2 separate regions of the Homo sapiens genome follow, and region 2 is linked to region 1. Evidence: fine-mapped expression QTL. A gene starts in region 1. The other region holds a variant in brackets. All regions are shown on one strand. Distances are from middle to middle. Region 1 holds the start of IKBKE (inhibitor of nuclear factor kappa B kinase subunit epsilon). Region 2 overlaps SRGAP2 (SLIT-ROBO Rho GTPase activating protein 2).

Region 1 (2,910 bases):
GGGAGGCTGAGGCAGGTGGATCAGGAGGTTGGGAGATCAAGTCCAACCTGTTCAATCCACCTCACCAACCACACAGTGAAACCCCATCTCTACTAAAAATACAAAAAGTTAGCCGGGCATGGTGGTGCATGCCTGTAGTCCCAGATACTTGGGAGGCTGAGGCAGAAGAATCACTTGAACCCAGGAGGTGGAGGTTGCAGTGAGCTAACATCATGCCACTGCACTCCAGCCTGGGTGACAGAGTGAGACTCCATCTCAAAAAAAAAAAGCAAGCTGGGAAGACTGGGTGGAACATGAGGATCTCAGGCACTCAGGCACATTCCTCCTGGTCCTGATGTGAGAAGTTGCAGCAACTCCTCCAGCTGGAGGTGTTATGGGGAGTTCTCTTTATCTGAGCACTAGGCAGTTCTCAGCTCTGCTCCTGTTCTAGTGTCACTGTGGGAGGGGTGGGGCTGGCGGAGGAAACCACCAGGTGTGGCCATGGGAAAGTCCCTCCAACATTCTATAGAAACATGGAATTTCCTGGTTTTAACCATTTCATATCCAACTGCCATCTCTGAGCTGACCAGAGCAGGACAGACCCCTCCAGCCTCCTAGGACATTTGATGTGGGGCATCGAGTCCTGGCTGGGAAGTTGGCACCTGGGTGCCAGCCCCAGCAGTCTCTGAAGAGCATGGGTAAATTACTGAAGTGTGTGGGCCTCCATGCCTTCAATGCCTTTCTGTAAAATGCTTTCCAAGCTCCCAAACAATTCCAAATATATCCATGTCATCCAATCAACCCACAGAGTAGCTGTTACTCTGCGGGTGAGTGAGCTGGCTGGGAGGGGCTGCATGCTGTGTGCTCAGGTCACACTGGAAGGCATCAGCTGGGTCCCCGCGCTTGCTCTCGGACCTCTGCAGGCCTCCTGGGAAGGTGACTCAGATCCAACTTCTAGGACTGGATCGGCATAGCTCCCACACTTCCTTGGGGTTCCTGGGTGTGGGAGCATGGACTTCCCAGGCAGCTTTCCACTTAGTTAACTTGCCCAACCTGCTCTGTTGACTCTGGGAAGAGCCCTGAACTTCCCTGCTCCAGTGAACTGTGGGAGATGCCAAAACAGCACCCAGCTGCCCATCAAGATTACCAGAAGGGCCCCAGTTCCTGGCTTCTCTGTGGCTCACACTCTGGTCCTATTGCCTACCCTTGGGAACTCAGAGCATCCTCTTTCTCTTTTCTGCTGAGCTGGTGGCTGCACCGAGTTGCCTCTGTCTCTTTAAGAGAGAAAGAGAGAGCGAGAGACGGAAATCAGGAAGTGCGAGAGAGCTGAGAGCCAGGACTCAGTGCTGAGCTTGGTGTCCCACCGCCACAAGGAGGCAGGGAAGAAACCCACTAGTCCCAGCTCCTGGGGTGGCACAGACATTGCAACTGGCCCTGCCTGTGGGTCCTAGGGGCCCTTGGCTACCAGGAGGCTAAGAACACTGCTCATGAATGACAGTGAGCCCTGAAAGCTCTGGGGGTGTCACCCAGTCCCACAAGCCTGCATCCCCTGCAGTGGAGATGGGGTGAGTGTGCAGCGTGCGGAGGGGGGTGGGGGTGGAATGAGGGGCCAGACAAGGGGCAGCTGCAGGGCAGCTCAGCCGGGTGCAGGGGTGTGGGCTTGTTGGCAGCGGTGCTCTCACATAGAGCGTTGTGTGTGGCATGGAGGTGAGCCACCACGGGCCAACCACAAGCCCTCCCTGGGCTCTGCTTACCAACACCCAAAGCCAGCGATCAGCACCCAGCGCCTGCCCTCACCTTTCCCGGGGTCTTTCTCCCTGGCCGGAGTCTCAGGAGTAGGAGACGCTGGGAAAGGCTCCCTGAACAGTTTGGGAATAGAGCTGGAAACCCCCAGCCCAGCCCTGTGGGGGAAGGTGACAAACAGGAAAGGGTTAAAGGGCTAGGGCCGGCGGCCTTTGATGGAGGCTGAGAAGCAACTGCACTGAGGGGCGCCTCTCATCCGCCCTCCTCTTTCCGGTGTAGCTCAGCTCCTGGACGTGCCACAGACAGAAAGCATAACATACACTCGCCAGGAAGAGCCTTTGCCTGACTCAGGGCAGCTCAGAGTGTGGGGTAAGTGCACTTGGCCACAGCAGAGCCCTGAGGAGGGAGGGGAGGGGAGAGGTGGGTGGGTGGTGTCTCACATGCTTCACTGTCCACTGCTCATTCATCCAACCACTGGCTGAGGGCCACTGAGCCCTTCTTTGCACCAGGTGCTTGGGGTGGTGGGGGGAGGATCTGCAGAGCGTGCAGAGTTAAGCCAGATGTGCCACAACCAGAGCTCCCGGGCACAGAATCCAGGGGCACACCGCTTGTCTGGGGGTCTGCGCTTTGCACCTCACTGCCTATTATCCCAGAGTCCTGAGCTGTTCCTTGCCCCAGTATCAGAGCCCTTGGCCTTGATTTCAGCCTGCTGTGCTCCAACCCCAGCCCCAGCCCCCAGACCTGCTGGCTGCCTCCAGCCTCAGCGGGGAAAACCAGACCCACTCATTCATGCTGAGCTACTGTGTTGTCTTCAGGAAGCCTCTCAGTACCTCAGTTGCTTCTGTGTAATGTCCGCTCCTACCTGATCTGAAACTAGGAGTTGACCACCGATCTCTTCAAGGGGCCTCTGGCTCAATGAAATGACATTATCAAGGATTTGCATTTTTAAAAAAGATTACACAGAGAAAAAGTTCAGAGCGAAGGAACATAGGATTCCAGGCATGGCAACCCTCAGTTTGAGAACCTGTAAGATGTTAGAACACGAAGATGCCTTTTCTAGTCTAGCGTTATTTAAAAGTATTTAAGTGGCCAGGCATGGTGGCTCACACCTGTAATCCCAGCAATTTTTTGGGGAAGCCCATGTGGCCGGATTGCCTGAGCTCAGGAGTTCAAGACCAGCCTGGGCAA
Region 2 (2,910 bases), 30 kb before region 1:
GTACTTCCCATCTCTTTTTCATATAAAGGCACTCATAGAAAATGGCAGTGTTTACATGGCACACTGTGGAAGTGAGAGGCTGCCTATGATGGAGGACCTGTAATTGACCTATAATTAACCTCTCCACAGCACAAGAAAACCTTTCAGGTCTCCTTCCCAATATCACTACATACCCAGGGGCCTGCTACCTCTTGCCTCAGGCCACTTTTTACTCATTCATAGTGCAGATAAGGGAGGGAGAAGATAAGCCACACTTGTCCAGAGGATGAGATGGCATGTGTGGAGTGAGCAGGACAGGCCTCTTGCACAGCCTCTCTTCCCACCGAGAAGTAGGCCCTTTGAGGCTTTGTGTTGAGCAGTTACAGCAGGTTGGCGGCAGCTCCCTGTCAGTGGTTGTTTGAATAAGAGGGTGGTAGATCCTGTGGGGAACATTTCTAACCCCATTTCCTGTGCCCAAATCCAAATCCAAACTTGTTATTAATAACAATGAGATTACAACAACCCTAGTTCAGTTTAATATTAATAATGTGTAATAACGAGTTTGGATTTGGATTTGGCACAGTTCCCTGTGCCCAAGAAGTATACACCTTACATCCGGCAATGGTAAATGTCTGGAGCCCAGCAGGTGCCCTCTTCTAACAGCCCTACTCCAAGGAGCAACAGGGATGACACTCCTGTCACTGCACCAGTGCTGTGCGTGGGCTTGATCTGATGCTGTCCGTGTTGCCCCTGCTGGTAGTAGGGACTTCTGATCATTACTGCCTGGGATCCCAGTCATAGTGGAGGATAACACATGGCTTTCTTCTTTTCAGCAATGGACAACCTGCAGGAGAGAGCTCTGCACATCCGGAAAGTCCTCCTAGTCCTGCCCAAAACCACTCTGATTATCATGAGATACCTCTTTGCCTTCCTCAATCAGTGAGTAGCCTTCCCAGTGAACAGCTGGATCAGGCTTTGGCTTGGGCACTGGAAGTTCCTCTATGGACCTATGCCTATTCATCCATCCCAACAAAATATTTATTGAGCACCTACTGTGTGCTAGCCACAGTGCTAGACTTATTTAATACATCGTTAAATAAAAGATGAAAGCCTTGATATAATTTAGCTCCTGTTCCAGGGAAGGAAACAGCCAATAACAGATATATCAGGTAGAATAAGTGCTTAGAAGAAAAATAAAAAAGAGTAAAGAGAGGGGAAAGAGTAAAGGGGTCTGAATGAAAGGAGGGAGAAGCACTGTAGTTGAGGTGGACAGCAGAGGCCTGCCTGAGAAGACAGTGTACAAGCAGCAGCCCAGAGGAGGAGAAAAGAGTGCCACGGGGCCATTTAAAACCCCAGAGTCATGGTAATAGCGAGTTTGGATTTGGATTTGGGAAGCAATTAGAAGATTTTCTTTTTTTTTTTTTGAGACGGAGTCTTGCTCTGTCTCCAGGCTGGAGTACAGTGGAGC[G/A]ATCTTGGCTTACTGCAACCTCTGCCTCCTAGGTTCAAGCGATTCTCCTGCCTCAGCCTCCTGAGTAGCTGGGACCCAGGCGCATGCCACCACGCCCAGCTAATTTTTGTATTTTTAGTAGACATGGGGTTTCACCACGTTGGCCAAGATGGTCACCATCTCTTGACCTCGTGATGTGCCCACCTCAGCCTCCCAAAGTGCTGGGATTACAGGCGTGAGCCACCGCACCCGGCATGTTACTATCTGATTTGTGTATTTTATTTTTTTAAAAACTGCCAACTGCTTTGTGGAGAAGTTACTGGAAAGGGTCATGAAGAGAAACAGGGAGACCCTATCCCAAGGTTACCATCTGGTCTGGCCAGAGGTGTTAGTGGCTGAGTCTGGAGAGCGGTGAGGAGGGGTCAGGTTTGTGATACATTTTGAACATAGCATTAACAGGATTTGCCCATGGATTATACATAGAATATGGAGAGAGAAATCCTAAATTGTTGGCATGAGCGACAGGGACATAGGGTGGTCATTTATGGAGTTGGAGAAGACAAGGTGTGGAGAAAGGAATCAAGACAATGTGTTGATGTGGTCATGGTCATTTGAGGCACTTGTGAGATGTCCAAGTGGAGATTTTGAACAATTGGACCTAGGAATCCAACCCTTAAGGGAGAAACCAGGAGTGGAGCTGCCAGTGCAGGAGTTGCCCATGTACTGGTGGTATTTAGCTAATCACCCAGGGAACGGATGTGTCTACAACAAAGGTCTGAGGAGCAGAGGGGGCCGCGGGTGTGGATGGGGCATTTCTTCTCGTCCAAGCAGCATGTCCTTGTGTGGAGCAAGCTTTGGAGTCCCCACATGACAGGAAAGGCACCAAGCAAGGACATGTGATTCTTCCCCTCTGAGGCACCTCTGTCTTTTCACTTTGGTTTTGCTGCAGTTTCGCCCTCAACAGCCTAGACCAAAGGTTATAAATGGGCACCCTGAGAGCCAGATAAAGCCGAAGATGTGTTCTCTTCAGGTGTCTATTGTGTCTTGAGAACAATGAAATCATACTTACATTTGGGGAAATTTCACTTTTTAAAAACCTAGATTTCTAGCTTCTTTTGAAAAATTATTAGATCTGGTGATACTGACTCTGCAGTCCCTGGTGGCAGCAATTCCCTGTGGAGTAAGGGCTGTACTCCCTAGATGGGGCAGGCACTCCCCAATTCACCACAGTCCCCAGCCCTCCCCGTTGTCCCCCAATCCTGAGGCTGAATTCAGTTGCTATTTATCATCACTCTTGTTTTGTGGTTTTCATAGAGAACAAAAATGTTTCTCTGGATCCATGAATCTATCAGAGTAGGGGAAACAAAAGGTAAACCAAGGGACCCAGGTGTTTTTGCACATATTTCTTTGTGAAAATGAGGAGCCTTCTACAAGGTTAGTCTCTGCTTAAAAGGAATACAACTTTAGAGACCATTTCATAAGTG

What was found. PIP is the estimated chance that this variant, and not a neighbour inherited with it, causes the effect.
Region 2: its variant is the best candidate, but not a certain one, in a credible set for the expression of IKBKE in whole blood (INTERVAL, PIP 0.74).

The regions. Positions count from the first base shown.
Region 1 is chr1:206,469,155-206,472,064 of GRCh38, forward strand. IKBKE (inhibitor of nuclear factor kappa B kinase subunit epsilon) reads left to right here and starts at 1,322. Exons shown (of 22, transcript NM_014002.4): 1 at 1,322-1,544; 2 at 2,002-2,091. RefSeq lists enhancers at 232-869, 389-698.
Region 2 is chr1:206,439,164-206,442,073 of GRCh38, forward strand. It overlaps SRGAP2 (SLIT-ROBO Rho GTPase activating protein 2), which reads left to right. Exons shown (of 23, transcript NM_015326.5): 17 at 813-918. Among named protein-coding and RNA genes, the nearest start is that of IKBKE, 30 kb to the right of the region's middle. The variant G/A (reference allele first, on the strand shown) is at 1,448.